Linked DNA regions of Homo sapiens. The protein of the gene in region 3 purifies or fractionates together with the protein of the main gene of each other region. This does not show direct contact. Each region holds a gene or a part of one and is shown on either strand. Other genes may lie near its edges.

Region 1 (4,957 bases), on a different chromosome or scaffold from region 3:
GATAGTATTAGTGGCCTACTTTATAAGGATGTTTTGAGGATTGGATGAAACAATGCACAGTGCCTGACTCATAGTAATTACTCCAAAAGTTAGCTGTCAGTGTTATTAATATTAACATTTACTTGTTTACCTTGTTTAGAATTGTATTCCCATTGGAGAGCAGCTTCAGTCGGTGTTGGGCAATTCTGGATACAAGCATATGATTGGACTACAATCCTCATCTACCTTAGGAACCTTAAACAAGTCGTCCTCCACACCTTTTCCTTTTAGAACTGGATTGACATCTGGGAACGTGACTGAAAACTTACAAACTTACATTGATAAAAGTACACAACTGCCTGGTGGAGAGAATTCTACCAAGCTTGATGAGTGTAAAGTTATGCCTCAAAACCATTCCTTTCTTGAAAATGATCTTAAAAATGCAATGGCCTCTTTCTTACCAAAGAAAGTAAGTGACAACTCAAATATACCCAACTCCGAGTTGCTGCCTTTTCTCCAGAATTTATGTAGTCAAGTTAATCATCTCCATGTGGGAAATAAGACCGAGTGTCAGGAAAACATCACCAAGCATGGTGAACGCATTCTTGGTGTTGGGTAAGTATTATTTTAAGACATACGAGTTTCGATTTGGTAGGTGGAAGAATCAGATGAAAGGAAACAGATTTGTCTCAATGAGTACTGCCTAAAATTTGTTTCCAGAGAAAATTTTAGCAACTTTTACATTTTACCATTAATACACTTAAAGGGGATAACTGCAGAGTAGAATGGATTACTTTGAAAGAAGTCCCTATAACTGGAGGTTTTGCACACTTCCCAGGCATTTTGTGGAAGGGTCACAAGTATTAGTTCACAGTTGGAATAGAAAGTGATTTGCATGAATGGAAAGGAGCTGTGGGAATTATAATCTTTATGTTGTTTTTATATATTTGTACTATTTTGTGCCTGGGTATGTTAAGCATGTCATTGTGACATTTTCCTTGAAGATTATGTTTGGTCTAGGCAAATTCCTGATTATTAAAAAACTATATTAGGATAATAATCACTTGTAGTTTACAAGCTATTATCCCCAGTCTCTTAATCCCTTATTTTGGCAGTACATATTTGATTAAGAGATAGCTAAGTATTATGTTCCTAATTGCTTAAGTAGATATAGTATGTCAAAATGGTGTTCTAGACTAGAATTCAGGACTCTAGGTGTGGTTTTGGCTTAAACATGTTGCCACACTGTTTAGTATTCTTTAGCCTAAGAGATTTTATTTGAAAATGAGGTAGTTGGATGATTTTGTAACTAAACGCCACCACCAACCAACAGGATTGAGTTGACATTTATAGAGAACTCTACCAACAATAGCAGAATATACACTTTTTTCAAGCATCTATGGAAGATTTGCAAAGATAGATTATATCTTGAGTCACAAAGCAAATCTGACCAAATTCAAGAGGATTGAAATAATACAATGTGTGTTTTCTGACCATAAATGAATCTAACTAGAAACCAATAAAAGACAACAAAATTTCCAGATTTTTGGGAATTACACAGCATTCTTAAATTTATGGTTCAAGAAAAAGTCTTGACAGAAATTAAACCTATTACACAGAAATGAATGAAAATACAACACATCAAAATTTGTGGGATGCAGTTAAAGAAGTATTGATAAGGATATTTATAGCACTAAATGATTACATTAGAAAAGAGGATTGTTCTTAAATCAGTAGCGTAAAGCTACAGCTCAACCAAAATAAAATAATCTGAATAGTCCTATAACCATTAAAGAAATTGAATTTACAATTTTAAAGCCAAGCAAACTGATCTTAAAGCAAGCAGAAAGAAGGAAATAATAACAGAAATCAGTGTAACTGAAAACAAGCAAACAAAATCAATGAAGCCAAAAGCCAGTTCTTTGAAAATTTCAATAAAATTGATACACTTCAAACAAGACTATCAAAAGATAAAAAGAAGATGCAATCATCAGTATCCGGAATGTAATGAGATGTCACTACTGATCCTAAGGCCGTTAAAAGATAACAAGGGAGGGAATATTACAAACAAATTTATGCTCATAAATTTGACAACTTAGGAGAAATGGATTAATTTCCCCAAAACCACAAACTACCAACCAAACTCAGCCAACATGAAATAAGTAATAAAATAGTCCTATAACCACTAAAAATATTTGATTAATGATTGGAAAGCTCATGAAAAAGAAATATCCAGGCCCAGATGGCTACACTGAAGGTTTCCACTGAACATTTAAAGAACATCAATTTTACATGCTTTTAAAAACTAGAAGAGGAGGGAAGATGTTCCAACTCATTCTGTGAAGTCAGTATTAGCCTGACACCAAACTAGATTGCCCCCCAAAATTAAAATACACAAAAATGCATGTAAATATATGTAAAATATGTAAATCTATAAAAAATACTTATAAAATATATGAAAAAATTTATAAACCTAACAAAATATATAAGGATATGTGAAATGAAAATTATAAAATACTGACAAAGGAAAAGAAAAGCCCTAAAAACTGGAGAGACATACCATATTCATGGATTTGAAGACACAGCATAGTAAAAACGTCAATTCTCTCCTAGTTGATATATAAATTTAATGTAATTCCTATGAAAAATCGAGCATGATTTTTTATAAATATGAATGAGATGATTCTAAAATTTAGAAATGGAGAATTTTTTAAAATGGAAAAATAAAGGAACTATAAAAAATTTTGAAAAAGTGTAAGAGAAATCACTACTTGATTTCAAGACATAGCCACAGTATTCAAGACTGTGTTATTGTCAGAGGCATAGACTTATAGATGGATAGCACAGAAATAACTCTGCACAAGTACACCAACTGACGTTTGACAATGCAAAAATAATTCAATACAGGTAGAATTGTCTTTTTAACCTGTGCTGGAACAGTTGGATATCCACAGGCAAAAAATGAATTGTGACTTAAATCTTATACTTTATGCAAAAATTAACACAAAATTACTTATAGATTAAAATGTAAAATATAAAACTATAAAGCTTTTCTACAGGAGAAACTCTAGGGACCTAGGACTAGGAAATGAGTTCTCAGATATGACATCAAAAGCGTGATCCATAAAATAAAAAACTGATTTATTGGGCCCCATCAAAATGTAAAACTTTTGTTTATGAAAGACACTGTTAGGGGAATTAAAATACAGACTGGGAGAAATTCTTTGCAAATTACAAATCCAGCAAATGACCTGTCTCTGAAGTACATAAAGAACTCTCAAAACTCTATGTTAAAAGCAAATAAAAATAAAACCTAACAATCCAATTTAAACCATGGGCAAAAGAATAGTCATTTCAACAGACAGGATATACAAATAGCAAATAAGCACAAGGAAAGTTGATCAACATTGACTTAGTGACTATTAGGGAAATGCATATTAAAACCACAATATATCACTACATATTTGGATGGCTAAAATTTAAAAATGGTAACAATACCAAATGCTGACAAAGATGTTTGGGAACTGGATCTCTCATACATTGTTGGTAGGAATATAAAATGGTACAGTCACTCTAAAAAATATTTTGGCAATATCTTAAAAACTAAACATACAGTTACCGTACAACCCAGCAATTATACTCCTGGACATCCCAGAGAAATGAAAGCTCAGGTCCACACAGAAACTTGTACACAGTTATTAATAAAAGCTTTCTTTGTAATATCCCAGAAGTCCCAACTAAAATGTCTTAGCAATAGGTGAATGGTTAAACTATGGTACCTCCATATCACGCAGTGCTGATGAGCAGTAAAAAACAACTTGGACATCTCTCAAAGGCATTTTGCTGAGTGACAAAAGAGAATCTCAAAAGGTCACATACTGTATGATCTCACTTTATAATATTTTCAAAATAATAAAACTGTAGAGATGAACAACATATTGATGGTTACCAGGTATTAGGGAAAGAAGACTTTAGGGGAGTAGGTATGACAATAGAGGGGTAGCAGGGAGGAGATCATTGCAGTTAAAGAATGGTTCTGCCTTTTGATTATGGTGGTGTTTAAATAAATATGTGTACATATGATAAAATGGCATAGAACTATACACACACATCATATTAATATCAATTTCCTGGTTTTGATATTGGATTATAGGTAGATAAGATGTGACCATTGGGAGGATTGGATAAAGGGCACTGAGAAACTAATATCTTTGCAACTTCCTGTGAATCCATAATTATTTCAAAATACAGAGTTTCTTAAAAACTGTCTTTGGTGTATTCTAGAGTAGTGGCTCTCAGACTTTTGGTCTTTACACTCTTAATTGAGGACTCCAATAAACTTATGTAGGCTACATAAAAATATTTGTTTAAAAATAACAATAAACCCACTGTATATTAACATAAATAACAGTCTTTATGAAAAAAAGCCAGATTTTCTTTTAAAATTTTATTGAGAATAGTATTATTTTAAATGTACATGAATCTATACATAATAGCTTTTGGCTGCATTATCATGTATATTGAATTATAGCATGTATAGTGAAATATAGCTAGTAAGAGCACAGTAGGAATACTGAGAACAGAGTGGATTAATCTCTGAAAAAGCATATATTTATACACTAAATCTCTACTACCTTGAAATTTTAGGAAAGAAGAATACACAACTACAGATTCTGTTAGTCATCAGGGCAATAACATAGATTTTGTAGCCTCTGGAAAATTCATGAGTATGAGGATGAGAAAGTCGAATAACATCTTAGTATAAACATACTTCTGACCTCAGTGAATTCCCAAAAGAATCATGGAGACCCCAAGGTTCTGTGGACCACATTCTGAGAGTTACTGTTCTTGTTTTGAGACGGAGTCTTATCACCCAGGCTGGAGTGCAGTTGCGCAATCTCAGCTCACTGCAGCCTCTGTCTCCCGGGTTCAAGCAATCCTCCCAGGTAGCTGGGACTACAGGCGCCCACCACCATAC
Region 2 (5,044 bases), on a different chromosome or scaffold from region 3:
CTCTTCTGCTTTTTATAAACCGAAAAGTAATAAAATAAAGATATAAGAGTGAGACTTGCTTAGAAGAGATAAACTAAATTGGTGGGTGGATTAAAAATCTACTCAAGAGGCCTACACCAACCCCTGCCACTGCTGCCAGTGACCGAGTACAGTGTCTAAGAGGCTTGGGGATTGACTTGCCTCCAACCCCCACCACCACTAGCACCCATGTATGCCATCTAGGGGCCTGAGGATAGGCTGACCCCACCCACCACCACCACTGCCAGCACACACATGACCCAGGGGCATAGGATGGATCCACCCTGCCCACCACCACTGGTGCACATTTTCTGGGGTCTAAAGGACCGTTCTGCCCTGTCTGCCACCCATGCATAGTCTGCGAGCCTGGGAATAGGCCTACCCTGCCTGCCACCAGTGTCCATGTATGTCTCCCAAAAGCCTGATGGCCAGTCTACCCAGCTTGCAGCCACCACCCACCCACATGCACTACCTGGGGACTGGCTCACCTGGCCCACCACTGCCACCCCCGGCACCTGAGCAAGGCACTGGAGGCCTAAGGACTGACCTGCCCAGATCCACCATCACCAGAACCCATGTACACCACCTGGGGGGCCCAGGGACTAGCATACCTGGCTTGCCACCACTACCACTGGTGCCTAAGGACCAGCCCACTTGGTATCCCCATTTGCAATAAAGCCTTGTCACAGCCTCCAATAACAACTATAGCCTAAGCCACTAAAGAACCCATAGATACCCACTGATGCTGATTACAGCTGAAGATATATAAAAACTACATCACTGCACCCACCCAGAATCAAAGCCAAAGCACCCCACCCTACCAACACCATAGATACATCTATAGGGAAGTCTTTTCTTATGGAAGTCAATCCATAAGACTGGAAGATGCAACTATTACACCAGATACACAGATATCAATGTAAGAACACAGGAAACATGAAAAAGCAAGGAAACATGACACCTTTAAAGGAACACAATAATTCTCCAGTAACAGATCCCAATGAAAAGACAATCCATGAAATGGATAAAAAAGAATTCAAAACAATGATATTAAAGAAACTCAGTGAGGTATGAGAGAACACAGATAAAGAGTACAAAGAAGGCCGGGTGCGGTGGCTCATGCCTATAATCTCAGCACTTTGGGAGGCCAAGACGGGCAGATCACAAGGTCAGGAGATAGAGACCATCCTGGCCAACATGGTGAAACCCCATCTATACTAAAAATACAAAAATTAGCTGGGCGTGGTGGCGCATGCCTGTAATCCTAGCTACTCAGGAGGCTGAGGCAGGAGAATCACTTGAACCAGGAAGTCAGAGGTTGCAGTGAGCTGAGATTGCGCCACTATACTCCAGCCTGGCAACAGGGAGAGATTCCGTCTCCAAAAAAAAAAGAGTACAAACAAATCAGAAAAATGATTCATGATCTGAATGGGAAAGTCAATAAAGAGATAAACATCATAAAAAAGAACCAAATAGAAATCCTGGAACTGAAGAAGTCAATGAAAGAAAGAAAAAATACAATCAAGAGCTTCAATAATAAACTAGATCAAGCAGGAGAAAAAGAATTTCAGAACTTGAGGACAGGTCTTTTGAAATAACTCAGACAAAAAAGAAAAAAGAATAAAGGAAGCCTACTTGACATATGCAACACCATAAAGAAAACAAGTATTAAAATTTTTGAAGTCTCAGAAGAAGAGATGGGCAAAGGTATTGAAAACCTATTAATGCAATAATAGCTGAAAACTTCTCAAGTCTTGAAAGAGATATAGATATTCAGATACAGGAAGCTTGAAGGTCTCAAAATAGATTCACCTCAAAAAGATCTTCTCCAAGGCACATTATAATCAAAATGTCAAGTCAAAGACAAAGATAAAATTCAAAAAAACAACAGGAGGAAAGTGTCAAGTCACATAAAAGGGAATTCCCAGCAGAAACCTTACGGGCCAGGAAAGTTTGGGATGATATATTCAAAGTGCTGAAAGGGAAAAAAAAAAAGGCAGCTATGATTACTATACCCAGCAAAGCTATTATTCAAAAATGAAGGAGAAATAAAGTCCTTCCCAGATAAGCAAAACCAGAGGGAATTCATCACCACTGACAAGCCTTTCAATAAATTATTAAGGGAGTCCTACATATGGAAGTGAAAGAACAATATATACCATCATGAAAACACAAGACAGTATAAAACTCACTAGTAGAACAGATACACAAATGGGAAAGAGAAAGAATTCAAACATTACCACTTCAGAAAACCATCAAACTGCAATGATAAAACTTAAAAGAGGAAGTAAGGAAAAAAGGATATATAAAACAACCAGAAAACAATTAATAAAATGGCAGAAATAAGTCCTTAGCCATCAATAATAACCTTGAATGTAAATGGATTAAACTCCTCACTAAACTGGCTGGCTAAATTAAAAAGCATCACTATTTGCTGCCTATAAGAAACTTACTTCACTTATAAAGACACACATAGACTAAAAGTGAAGGGATGGAAAAAAATTCCTGCAAATAAGAACCCAAAGCAAGCAGGAGAAGCTATACTTACATGAGATAACACAGACTTTAAGTCAAAAACTGTAAAGAAGGTCATTCTATAATGATAAGGGGATCAATATAACAGTTCTAAATATATATGTACCCAACACTGGAGCCTCCAGATAATAAAAAGCAAATATTATTAGATCTAAATAGACTCCAATACAATAATAGTTGGTGACTTCAACATCCAACTGTCAGCACTGGAGAGATCATCTAGACAGAAAACCAATAAAGAAAACTGGGAATTTAAACTGCACTTTAAACCAAATGAAACTAACAGACATTTACTAAACATTTCATCCAATAGCCGCAGAACACACATTCTTCTCATCAGCACGTGGAACATTCTCCAGAATAGACCATATGTTAGGCCACAAAACAAATGTCAAGAAATTTTTAAAAACCAAAATCATATCAAGTATCTTTCAGATGACAATGGAATAAAACTAGAAATCAATAACAAGAGGAATTATGGAAACTGTACAAATACATAGAAATTAAACAACATGCTCCTGAACAACCACTGGATCAATGAAGAAATTAAGAAGAAAATTAAAAAATTTCTTGAAACAAATGAAAACAGAAACACAACATACAAAAACCTATGGGATACAGCAAAAGCAGAGCCAAGAGGGAAGTATAGCAATGAATACCTACATCAAAAAAAAAAAGGAAAGATTCTGAATGAACAAGCTAACAACACACCTCAGGGAACTAGAAATGCAGGAACCAGCTAAACCCCAAATCACTAGAAGGAAAGAAATAATAAAATCAGAGCAGAACTAAACAAAATAGAGACTTAAAAAAATACAAACGATCAATGAAACAAAAGATAGTTTTTTGAAAAGATAAACAAAATTAGTAAACTGCTAGCTAGACCAACCAAGAAAAAAGAGAGAAGACCCAAATAAATAAAATCATAAATGAGAAAAGAGACATTACAACTGATACCACAGAAATACAAAGGATCATAAGAGACTATTATGAACAAGTATATACTAATAAATTGGAAATCCTAGAGGAAATGGACAAATTCCTGGACACGTACAACCTACCAAGATTGAACCAGGAAGAAATAGAAAACCTGAACAGACCACTAACAAGTAATGAGATTGAATCAGTAATAAAAAGCCTCCCAACAAAGAAAAGCCCAAGACTAGATAGCTTTACTATTGAATTCTACCAAACTTAAAAGAACAAACACCAATTTTTCTCAGTCTATTCCCAAAAATTGAATGGGAGGAAATTCTTCCTAACTCATCTACAAAGCCAGTATTACTCTGACACCAAAACCAGATAAGGACACAACCACCACAACAACAACAACTATAGGCCAACATCCCTGATGAACATAGGATGCAAAAATCCCCAACAAAATACGAGCAAACTGAATCCAACAACACATCAAAAAGATAATACACCATGATCAACTGGGATTTATCCCAGGGATGCAAGGAGGGTTCAACACAAGCAAATCAATAAATCTGATATATAACACCAATAGAATGAGGGATAAAAACCACATTATCATCTTAATAGATGCAGAAAAAGCATTTGATATGATTGAACATCCCTTCATAATAAAAATTCTCAGCAAATCAGGCACAGAAGGAACAAATCAGTCCTCAACTTAATAAAGGCCACATACGACAAACCCACAGCTAACATCGTACTTAATGGAGAAAAGCTGAACATTTTTCCTCTAAGAACTGGAACAAGACAAGGATGTCCACTTTCACCACTTTTATTTAACATAGTCCTGGAAGTTCTAGCCAGAGTAATCAGTCAAGAGAAAGAAATAAAACTCTTCCAAATTAGACAGGAAGTGAAATTGTCCCTCTTTGCAGATGATATGATCTTATAAATACAAAAACCTAAAGATTGCATCAAAAAATTCTTAGAATGAATAAATGAATTCAGTGAAGTTGCAGGATACGAAATCAACACACAAAAATCAGTAGTGTTTTTACACACCAATAACAAACTAGTTGAAAAATAAATCAGGAAAGCAATCCCATTTATAATAGCTACAAAAAAAATACTTAGGAATACATTTATCCAAGAAGGTGAAAGACTTCTACAACGAAAATTACAGAACACTAACGAAAGAAATTGAAGAAGACATAAACAAATAGACATCCCATGCTTATGGATCAGAAGAATTAATATTGTTAGAATGACTGTACTACCCAAAGGAATCTACAGGTTCAATACAATTCTATCAAAATACCCACGATATTCTTCACAGAAACAGAAAAAACAACCCTAAAATTTATATGGGACCACAAAAGGGCCTGAATAGCCAATGCAACATTGGGCAAAAAGAACAAAGATGGAGGCATCACACTATTTGACTTCAAAATATATAATACTACAAAGCTATAGTAACCAAAACAGCATAATATTGGTATAAAAACAAATAGATCAAAGGAAGAGAATAGAAAACCAAGGAATAAATCCATGTATTTCTAGCCAAACGATTTTT
Region 3 (5,044 bases):
ACAGCCTAGGCAACAGGGTGAGACCTTCTCTCAAAAAAAAAAAAAAAAAAAAAAAAAGGAATAGCAGAAACACAACTTAATGGTGGGTAGGCCCACTATGTAAATTAATAAATTGGCAGTATGCCATACACAATATCAGGTTCTCATAACTGGACTTCCCCTATGTCAGGTCCATGAGTTTGTGCAGGAGAAACAAAGTCACATTTCTGATCCCCTAGAGCCAAAGATCAGATCCTAGGTGAAGCCACTTCCTGAGGCCCTTTTACAGACTGAATGGAAATTCCCCCTGAAATTCACATGTTGAAGCCTTAATCCCCACCATGGCTGTATTTGGAGATGGGGCCTCTAAGAAAGTAACTAAGGTTAAATGAGGTCGTTAAGTGTGGGGCCATGATCCAATAGGATTAGTGTCCTTATAAGAGACACTAGAGCACACTCTCTCTCCACTATGTGAGCACATGGCAAGATGGCAGCTGCCTACCAGCCAAGAGAAAAGGCCTCAGAATGAAGCTATTTTGCTAGCACCTTGACCCTGGACTTCTAACCTCCAGAATTGTGAGAAATACATTTCTGTTGTTTCAGCCAAGCCACAAGAAAAGGCCTCAGAATGAAACTATTTTGCTAGCACCTTGACCCTGGACTTCTAACCTCCAGAATTGTGAGAAATACATTTCTGTTGTTTCAGCCACCCAGTCTGTGGTATTATTATGGCATCCCAAACAGACCCCTTTGAATTGCTCATCTGACCTACACTGAATTCCCTTTCCTTGTTACAAAAAGTACCCCAAGTGATTTTTCCCAGCTTGAACTCTTCCTGATCCCCAAAACTATTCATATTTGGAAAACGGCATGTTAGTGCAGGAAGGGTCCTCTTCCAGAGGTTTGCTTCTCTCTTAGCTGGAAAATCATGAGATTTCAAAGCTGTTTTTCATTCCGTAAGTCAGATCTAATAGGCAACACACCCTTCCTCTCTAAGTGCTTCATGGGACACAAAGGACAGAATCCAAGCTTTTCCACTTGTGAGAAAGGATTATTTACAGTTCTTATTCCACGAGTCTAGAACTGCACTGCCCAAAACGATAGCCCTACTGGAAACTTGAAATGTGGCAGGTATGACTGAGACATTGACTTTTTAATTGTATTTAGGTTTAATTAAAATTTAAAAGCCTATACTCCATTCAGTTATTGGCAAACTATTAAGTATGTCTGGAAAACTTGAGTATGTCAAACTACTTTTTCAATTGTACATTTTATAAAATCTAAATATAGATCAAGTACTTTCAATGAAAATTTAGCATCCGAATTAAGATGTTCCTTAAGTAGAGAATACACACCAGATTTGGAAATTCAGTTGACCTTTGAACAACATTGGTCTGAAATGCATGGGTCAACTTATACATAGATTTTCTTCCATCTCTGCCACCCCTGAGACAGCAAGAACAACCTTTCTTCCTCCTCTCAGTCTACTCAGTGTGAAGACAATGAGGATAAATACTTTTGTGATGAGCCGGGCGCAGTGGCTCACGCCAGCAATCCCAACACTTTGGGAGGCTGAGGCAGGCAGATCACGAGGTCAGGAGTTCAAGACCAGCCTGGCCAACATAGTGAAACCCCATCTCTACTAAAAATACAAAAAAATTAGCGAGGCGTGGTGGCTGGCACCTATAATCCCAGCTACTCGGGAGGCTGAGGCAGGAGAATCACTTGAACCCGGGAGGAGGAGGTTGCAGTGAGCCAAGATCGTGCCATTGCACTTCAGCCCGGATGACAGTGCGATACTCCGTCTCAAAAAAAAAAAAAAAAAGCTTTTATGATGATCCACTTCCACTTAATAAATAATAAATATATTTTACCTTCCTTATGATTTTCTTAATACCATTTCTTTTTTCTAGCTTACTCTGTTATAAGAACATAGTATATAATACATATACCAAATACATGGTAATTGACTGTTAATGTTATCAGTAAGGCTTCTGGTCAACAGTAGGCTATTAGTAGTTGAGTTTTTAGGGAGTCAAAAGTTATACTTTGATTTTTGACTGTGTGGGCTTCAGTGTCCCAACCCCTGCATTGTTCAAGGGTCAACTATAATATGAAAGAAATAATATAAAATACCTCATTAATAATTTTGATATTAATTACATCTTGAGATGACAATATTTTGTTTATACTGGCTTAAACAAAACATTATTAAAATTAATCTCAGCCAGGTACAGTGGCTCAAGCCTGTAATCCCAGCACTTCAGGAGGCCGAGGCAGGAGGATCACTTGAGGCCAAGAGTTTGAGACCAGCCTGGGCAACATAGAGAGACCCTGCCTCTACAAAAAATATATATATATATTCTTTAAATTAGCCAGACTTGGTGGTGTGTGCCTGTAGTCCCAGATACTTGGGAGACTGAGGTGGGAGAATCACTTGAGCCCAGGAGTTTAAGACTGCAGTGAGCTATGATCTTGCCACTGTACTCCAGCCTGGGTAACAGAGTGAGACTGTCTCTAAAAAAATTAAAATTAAAAAAAAAATTAATCTCATTGGCTTCTTTTTGCTTTTTTAAATGTGGCTACTAAAACATTAAAATCACATATGTGGCTTGCATTGCCTCTCCAATGACCTGCAGCACTGGGCTGAATAGAAATACTGGTTGAAGAGGTAAGGCAAGCAGACAGGACAGGCACAAGCCACCCAGTTAAGGAAAGGAAAAAAGGCCATGGGAGTGAAGAGCTCTCCCCTTAAAAGAGCACAGTTCGACTTACACACACAGAGGAATGGAATTTAGTCACCGCTTGGTGCCACCCACAGGGTAGTACCCAGTGCTCCTTCTACCTGATGCTCTTTTCTGCCTTAATACCCCGGGTACACACATCTCAGAATACCCAGCAGTAACACATGAGTCCATTTTCCAGATAATCACTCATTCTGGAGAAATGAAGGTACAAGAGGCCATGCAGGCAGAGGCAATCCCCACGTTCCAGCAGCTTCTGCAACAGCACTTTTGGCTCTAGGCACTTACAGAATGATGCGAACCGCTCAGCTTGAGCTCGTCTCACACGTGAGAGGCCTGGTGCAAGCCAAGCCCTGGCAGGAAGGTACCAAGGGGAACCAGGCCCACATACCATCATACTGATGCCTACGGAAGCCTGGGCCCCGGCCCTGAGCCCATCTGAGAGGTTTTCAGTCACTGAGCGCCCCAGGAGTGCAGTGTCTGATGAGAGGCGGTTAATCAATTCTCCTGTGCGAGTCTTGTCAAAGAAAGCAACCTCCTGCCTCAGAATGGAGGAGAATAATGAAGTTCTCAGCCTATTCACAATGCGCTGACCTGCAAAAGCAAACACGAACAGGCTCACCAAGGGTAAAGACATCCATTACCATTATGGGGCAGCCACTTACTGTGCAGCAGCTTGGCCTGGAGTTGTAACCCTCCTGAGCAATGCAGCCTCTGAGCGTGTCTGCTGCACTGTATCCCATGGGTGGAAAGAGACTTTCCCAAACCAGGCACATTAACTGTCATGCACTACTAACACTACTTTTCTCTTATTAACTACAGACTGTGGGCGCTAGTGAGAGGATACAGGAATAAAATAAATATAACATGACTCAGAGGCCTTTTTTATTTTTACTTTTTTTTTTTTTTTAAGAGACTGGGTCTTGCTCTATCACCCAGGCCTGAATGAAGTGGCACGATCACAGTTCACTGTAACCTCAACCTTGTGGGCTCAAGCCATCCTCCCACCTCAGCCTCCTGGGTAGCTGAAACTACAGATGTCCGCCACTACACCCAGCTAACTTATTTTTATTTTTTATATAGACGGAGTCTTGCTATGTAGCTCAGGCTGGTCTCAAACTCATGGGCTCAAGCAATCCTCCTGCCTCAGCCTCCCAAAGTGCTAGGATTACAGGCATGAGCCACCACACTTGGCCGAGATTTTTTTAAGGTATTATTTACAAAGAAGTTTTATTACATTAACTTCCAAAAGCTCATTTTGTTCCTCCCTGGAAACCCTTTCCTGTATTGAACCTTCAAATGGCAAGAATTGGTTAATTATCCACAGAGATAAATGGAGAGCAACAGACTTCGAGTTGGTGTCCCAGGTTCTCTCATTATTGTGGCAGTGACCTGCCTGTAAAAACAAGACCTCTTCAGAGAAATACTAACAAAGTTATCATCCCAGCTGCTACTTAAGGAGAAACACAAGCATGGGGCATGTAAATGGGTTTCTGAAGCCTTCAGGAAGCCTCAGAAGTCCAGCTTCATGGCCAGGGGCCTCATTTTCTTTTTTTTTCTTTTTTTTTTTTTTGAGATGGAGTCTCGCTCTGTCCCCCATGCTGGAGTGCAGTGGTATGATCTGGGCTCACTGCAACCTCTGCCTCCCAGGTTCAAGCGATTCTCCTGCCTCAGCCTCCTGAGTAGCTGAGATTACAGGCACACACCACCACGCCCGGGTAATTTTTGTATTTCTAGTAGAGACGGGGTTTCACCATGTTGGCCAGGCTGGTCTCGAACTCCTGACCTCATGATCCACCTGCCTCAGCCTCCCAAAGTGCTGGGATTACAGGCATGAGCCACGGCACCCAGCCCGAGGGGCTTATTTTCAAACCTCCCATAAGACCGACATGATTGCCCTTACAGCTCAACTTCAACTATAAAAGAAGAGTTGAGAGTGCTTGATCTAAAATAATCTGTAACTCCAACATCTGGGCAGTCATTGGACTCTATCCCCACTTAATGGGATGCCAGGAAGAGAGGAAGAGAATGGAGCCTGGAGCACATGAGATTTGAGCCCGAACAAACCCACAGGACTCTACATCTTCTTCAGGATGACTCACATCCCTGAGAGGAGAGACTGTTACCTGAAGTTTGCATGAGGTAGACACGAATGGCATTGGCGGCAGCACCACACAGAAACACGGCACTGAGCCCTAGGCAGAGGCGGGTCAGGTTGTCGCTGTAGTCCACAGTGGGGTTGGTATAGATGACATCAATGATCTTCCCCAGGAAGAAAGGGGCAGACATGGAGATAACACTGGACATCGTGAGAAATCCAA
Region 4 (5,044 bases), on a different chromosome or scaffold from region 3:
GCTACTCTGGAGGCTAAGGCAGGAGAATAGCTTGAACCTGGGAGGTGGAGGTTGCAGTAAGCCAAGACTGTACCACTGCACTCCAGCCTGGGCAACAGAGTGAGACTCAAAAAAAAAAAAAAAATGCTTTCTCCCTGACCTGCCCCCAAAAATCAGTGGGCTAGGAAAGGGAATGAAAGTAGGGTCTCCTCACTCCCCACCAACCTGGGAAATAAAGACTTGAACTGTCGGCTTACAACAGAATCCAGTCTCATTCAGTACCTCCTGAAAGCTCTTAAGTGCTCTGTCTTAACATTTGCTCTCCAGGAACTTCAACAGCAGTCTGGCCAGAGAAGAGCACAGGCTCTTTGCCTAAATCTATTTCTTCAATGAAACCAAATTTAAAACTACCATGGATAAGGGAGGGATTTCATTTTCAGCGAAAAGTGGCTTAAGACTTCTAGTTGGGAAAAGGATCAGAAGCCAAGCCAAAATTAAGGAGAAGGCCACTGCCTCCACCCATTGCTTCCCCTTTCCGCATAAACTAAGGATGGTGCAAATCAGGTCCCAAGAGAAGCAGCAGCAGGGATTATGCACGCACTATCCCTTGCAGACAGAAACAAATTTCCCAGCAGTTTGGGAGCCTGATGTTTTGTTGGCTCCCAGAGTCAGGTCAGGAGACCAACAGCTTCCAATCCCAGCATTTAATGAAGTGGCTTTTAACAACTTTGAAATTTTTCTATAGCATTTGTATTTCATTTCTCACCAAAGATAAGTTTACTGGTCTAAAATCTGTCCTAAGGACCACTATCGGTCTGGTAAACTAACATTTTTGGTCCAAAGAAACAAATGGATTTAGGCAATGTAGCAAGAGACTTTAGCAAAGATAGTTAAAGCACAGAAAGCCGGAGAGACCAGAAATTTAAATCCGAATGTGCTGGGGAGGAGGACTTCTGATTGATGAAACACATGGGCAAGCATCTCCCATATGGGGTGGGGATGGGTTGGGTACAGGAGGAGGGGTGAAACTGTCTAGGTTCAGGGAGGAAGACAGGACCCAAGTTCTGGAAAGTTCTCTGTTCATCAGTTACCATCATCACTCCAAGATCACTGAACCAAGAACATACCCATGTGATTTATACAAGTTCCCACTGGCCTTGGGCTTTGCCAGCCAAGAGGTACACCCCTGGGAAGACAGGCATGCTCAGGGGTGACATGGCATCTTGCTTGACCTGGTTTTGGGAACCCTGCAATATTTCTACTAGCTTGCTCCTCTGCAAGCTGGCCAACCCTGAGCCCAGACACCCCAGGCTATTTCCCTGTAAGGCACTGAAGAAACCGATGCAAGCTCTCAGGACCGGAAGACATGCACAGCTCGGATTACATACTGCCGGCAGATGGGACATTCATTCATGCGCTTGCCACACTTGGTACAGGTTACCATGTGGCCACACTCCAGAAGAACACAGTCAATGGGTGAGTCCATGCAGATCTTACACAGGTTCTCCTCCAAGCCTGATGGTACTGCTCCCCCTGTACAAACACACAGGGCAGAAAAAAAGGGGCAGAGGAGTGAGGAGAATGTCTTAAGTGTATAGGGGTGACTGGGGGAGGGAGGTGGGAGATAACAGGTACATTGTAAACAAAGTCTCAGTGCACATGCTTCCCTCAAATAGAGCTCCTCCGAGGAAACATTTCCTCAATAACCAACTCTGGTTACTTGTTTAATCCACACTTCATCCCCTCCAACAGGTAAAGATTTGAAAAGTACACAGCACTTGTGGATCAGACACATCCCAGAACATGAGAACTAAGGCAAAGTTCTCAAAGCTTAAAAGAAATAATTTTCAGACTGTTGGGGCTGTAATATAGTGAGTGTGTGAGTGGCACGTAGGGACTCATTATCCCCTGAGGCAGAACAGGCTAAAAAGATAAAACTGGTTCAGAAAAGTTTAGATAGAAATGGAACTGTGATGAATGGTTCATTAAGGATCACAAGGCTTTATCTATAAACATATCCTCCATTTAATAAAGTCAGGGATCATGGGGGACCCCTCTGCTATCTCACAAACTACTCCCAGGTTTCCTGAGGAAACTTCCTGGTGGAGAAACTTGGCAGAGATTACTGCTCCCTCTTTCTACCCCCACAAAACTTTTTTATACCCCCATGACTGCTTATCACATTGGATTAAAATTTTGAGTTTGCCTACTTACTCCCAGAGTAGACTATGAGCTCTTTAATTCAACATATTCAATCAATTTTTACAATTATATGCTTAGCATTTATTCCATGCTCCAAGGTTAGATATTCATCTTTGAAGCCCCCAATGCCAGTTATATGGTAGGTACTCTAAATGTCTGATGAATGAACATCTTCCCAAGGGAATGACAACATCCCACATTTACTGAATGCTTACCGTGTGCCAGGCAGGGTCCTGAAAGCTTTGCATGTGTTAACTCACTGAAGCCTCACAAAAACTATAAAGTAGGACCTCTTGTTATTTTCATTTTATAGATGAGGCCAACTGGGGCAAAAAAGTTAAGTGGCTTGCCCAAGGGCACAAAGCTGCTAAGTCGAGGAGCCAGGATTCAAACCCAGGCAGGCTGGCCCCACAGCTCCTGCTCTAGAATGGCCTTCTGCCTAACTGCCCTAAGAGTAGAAACTATCCAGACAGTATCAACTGCTGAGTGCACAGGGTTCTCAATAAATGCTAACTGGCTTGTGTCACTAGCAGAATATAGTGGGCATGACCAGTATCCTAGTAGAGCTGACCCAAACAGAAAAAATAATGTTCAAAAGCCCAGCCATCTCCAATATGTCTTAAATTGTAGCCTGAAGTAGGTACCCATAAAAAGGAACTGATCTCACAGAAGTCACCTCTACCATCTGGGGGTTGGCCAACCCATAGAGGAATTCTCCCTTATTGCATCTATACTTTCTCTTTTCTGGACTATTAAAAAGTCAAGAAATACTTCCCCCTAGGAGGTAGGCTGGGTGTGAAAGGGAGTGAAACCCATTTGCCTCTTTTGAGGTGCTGTTGGTCCTAACAGAGGTTTGGAGACTATACAAATACCTAAGATGAATGGGAATAATTTATAATTTTCAGTTACTCATTCTCTCAGAAGTAACAACAAACACATTAACTCAGTTGTCAGCATTCTCCCAGGGAATCAGAAAAAGAAAGGAAGCACCAAGTAGATCAGCCTGATCTTGGTACCGGTGATGCTGGGGGGTTGGAGGGTGGAGGTGGGTCTAGAACTCCAAATGGTTTTGGGGAATTGAGAAAAGCTCAACTGTTTTTTATGTCTGATTAGAAGTAATCAGACATAAAATTGCCCATTCTGAGCAAAAGGCCATTTTACTAAATAAATTTGGGAAATCTTCTGAAATAAGTTTTAAAATGCTGCAGGCTAGTCCAACACTACTCTTAGAACGTTCTCTCTTGGAAGGGAGTTCACAACCATATACCCTTGAGGCTTTTGAAAACACATAGCATATTTTAGAATGTCCCCACAGATGGTCAGGAGTTCTGCAGTGTGTTCTGGGAGTACCTGAGGGCCCAGTGGTGGTCTTTAAGTGAGTGGCAGCTGAGCTGAGATATATAGCTTGTGCCCAGAGAGTAGCACATGTGTTAGCTCCAGAGTAGCTCTAACCATTACCAGCCCTGTACAAACAGGGCTGTCTCAGGTCACCACCCTTTCTTTTTGGTTAGTACCAGAAGCTGCTAAACACCCTGATTCCCCAGAAGGTGTACACAGAGACCCTCCCTACCCAGACCAGAACTGAAAACACCAAGATTTTAAAAAATGAGCTGAGTGTGATACATGCCACCCCTCCTCTGTTTCAGTGTTTTACAAATGTTGGCTTATGAGCTCAGGTAGCCCAGGGACATGCACATCAGTCAGTCCGCCCCTACGTATGCTCCACTCTGCTTCCTGCACAGCGAGCAGAGAGAATTTCTAAAGATGGTGAGAGGCCCCCTGGGTCTCAGTGAGTTTCCCACACACCCTCTCTCTGGGGGCTCAAATGCTCAGAATTCTTAGATTACTAAAGGGATTGGGGTTGAAGGAGGGGAAGGACAAAAGGGCCTAAGCCCATTCCCAAACAGAAACAACTACATACCGTTTTGGTCTTCGGCACCACTGACTGAAAAGGAAAGAGAAGGATGTCTGAATAGGTAAGGCATGATGGTACAAATACAGTCTCTTACTGCCCTGACATCATTTCTGAACTCTTACCACTCCCTGCTGGGAACCAGGCTTGCCAAGAGCCTAGATGGACATCTGCCCTCTACTCGCTCTACATGCTCAGAACTCACACAAAGCTCCTACTCGTGCATCTGGTCTACTTTTATTTTTTATTTTTTTGAGATGGAGCCTCACTCTCTTGCCCAGGCTGGAGTGCAGTGGCATGATCTTGGCTCACTGCAACCTCTTTCTCATGGGTTCAAGCGATTCTCCTGCCTCGGCCTCCTGAGTACCTGGGGACTACAGGCACATGCCACCACTCCCGGCTAATTTTTTGTTTTTGGTGGAGATGGTGTTTCACCATGTTGCCTATGCTGGTCTTGAACTCCTGATCTCAAGTGATCCACCTGCCTCAGCCTCCCAGAGTGCTGGGATTACAGGCATAAGCCAACACACCCAGCCTGGTCTACTCTTAGGAAAAGGTATTCCACCAGTTTGCACAAACTGCCAAGTAGAAGGATACTGTATATGTGCAATATCCTTTTCTATTTTGAAGTCAGCATTAAAGTCAAGAAAGAATGAACTATCTAGCTGTTTCAGTCAGTCAGAGAATCTGGATAAAGTTCCCACGTGGAGTCATCTGTTCTGTTCCCCAGGTCCTGACGACTGGAGAGAAGACTCTTGAAACAATCCCAAAGGGAAAACAGACTCCATGTCAGTAGGCCTCAGTCTGTAATCGGGTGAAGAGTCAGTCAGATGACCCCTAACACTGATGAATTTGAGCTACTGGTAGAAGAGAGCCTGAAACCTGACTTCAACCACTCTTACCAAGCAAGGAATCAGTATGTTGCTCTGTAGGAACCAAATCAACTGGGGA

What was found.
Region 1: the proteins of ABCB10 (region 3) and C10orf88 purify together in Homo sapiens (co-immunoprecipitation; one large-scale study listed by IntAct). This does not show direct contact.
Region 2: the proteins of ABCB10 (region 3) and IFT43 purify together in Homo sapiens (co-immunoprecipitation; one large-scale study listed by IntAct). This does not show direct contact.
Region 4: the proteins of ABCB10 (region 3) and RFFL purify together in Homo sapiens (co-immunoprecipitation; one large-scale study listed by IntAct). This does not show direct contact.

The regions. Positions count from the first base shown.
Region 1 is NC_000010.11:122,933,342-122,938,298, reverse strand, and holds part of C10orf88 (ATPase PAAT), read left to right. Parts: intron 1-139; coding exon 140-594; intron 595-4,957. UniProt on the Homo sapiens protein: ATPase that regulates mitochondrial ABC transporters ABCB7, ABCB8/MITOSUR and ABCB10. Regulates mitochondrial ferric concentration and heme biosynthesis and plays a role in the maintenance of mitochondrial homeostasis and cell survival.
Region 2 is NC_000014.9:76,016,348-76,021,391, reverse strand, and holds part of IFT43 (intraflagellar transport protein 43 homolog), read right to left. Parts: intron 1-5,044. UniProt on the Homo sapiens protein: As a component of IFT complex A (IFT-A), a complex required for retrograde ciliary transport and entry into cilia of G protein-coupled receptors (GPCRs), it is involved in ciliogenesis.
Region 3 is NC_000001.11:229,544,385-229,549,428, forward strand, and holds part of ABCB10 (ATP-binding cassette sub-family B member 10, mitochondrial), read right to left. Parts: coding exon 4,850-5,044; intron 3,318-4,849; coding exon 3,115-3,317; intron 1-3,114.
Region 4 is NC_000017.11:35,010,638-35,015,681, forward strand, and holds part of RFFL (E3 ubiquitin-protein ligase rififylin), read right to left. Parts: intron 4,127-5,044; coding exon 4,103-4,126; intron 1,513-4,102; coding exon 1,331-1,512; 3' UTR 1-1,330.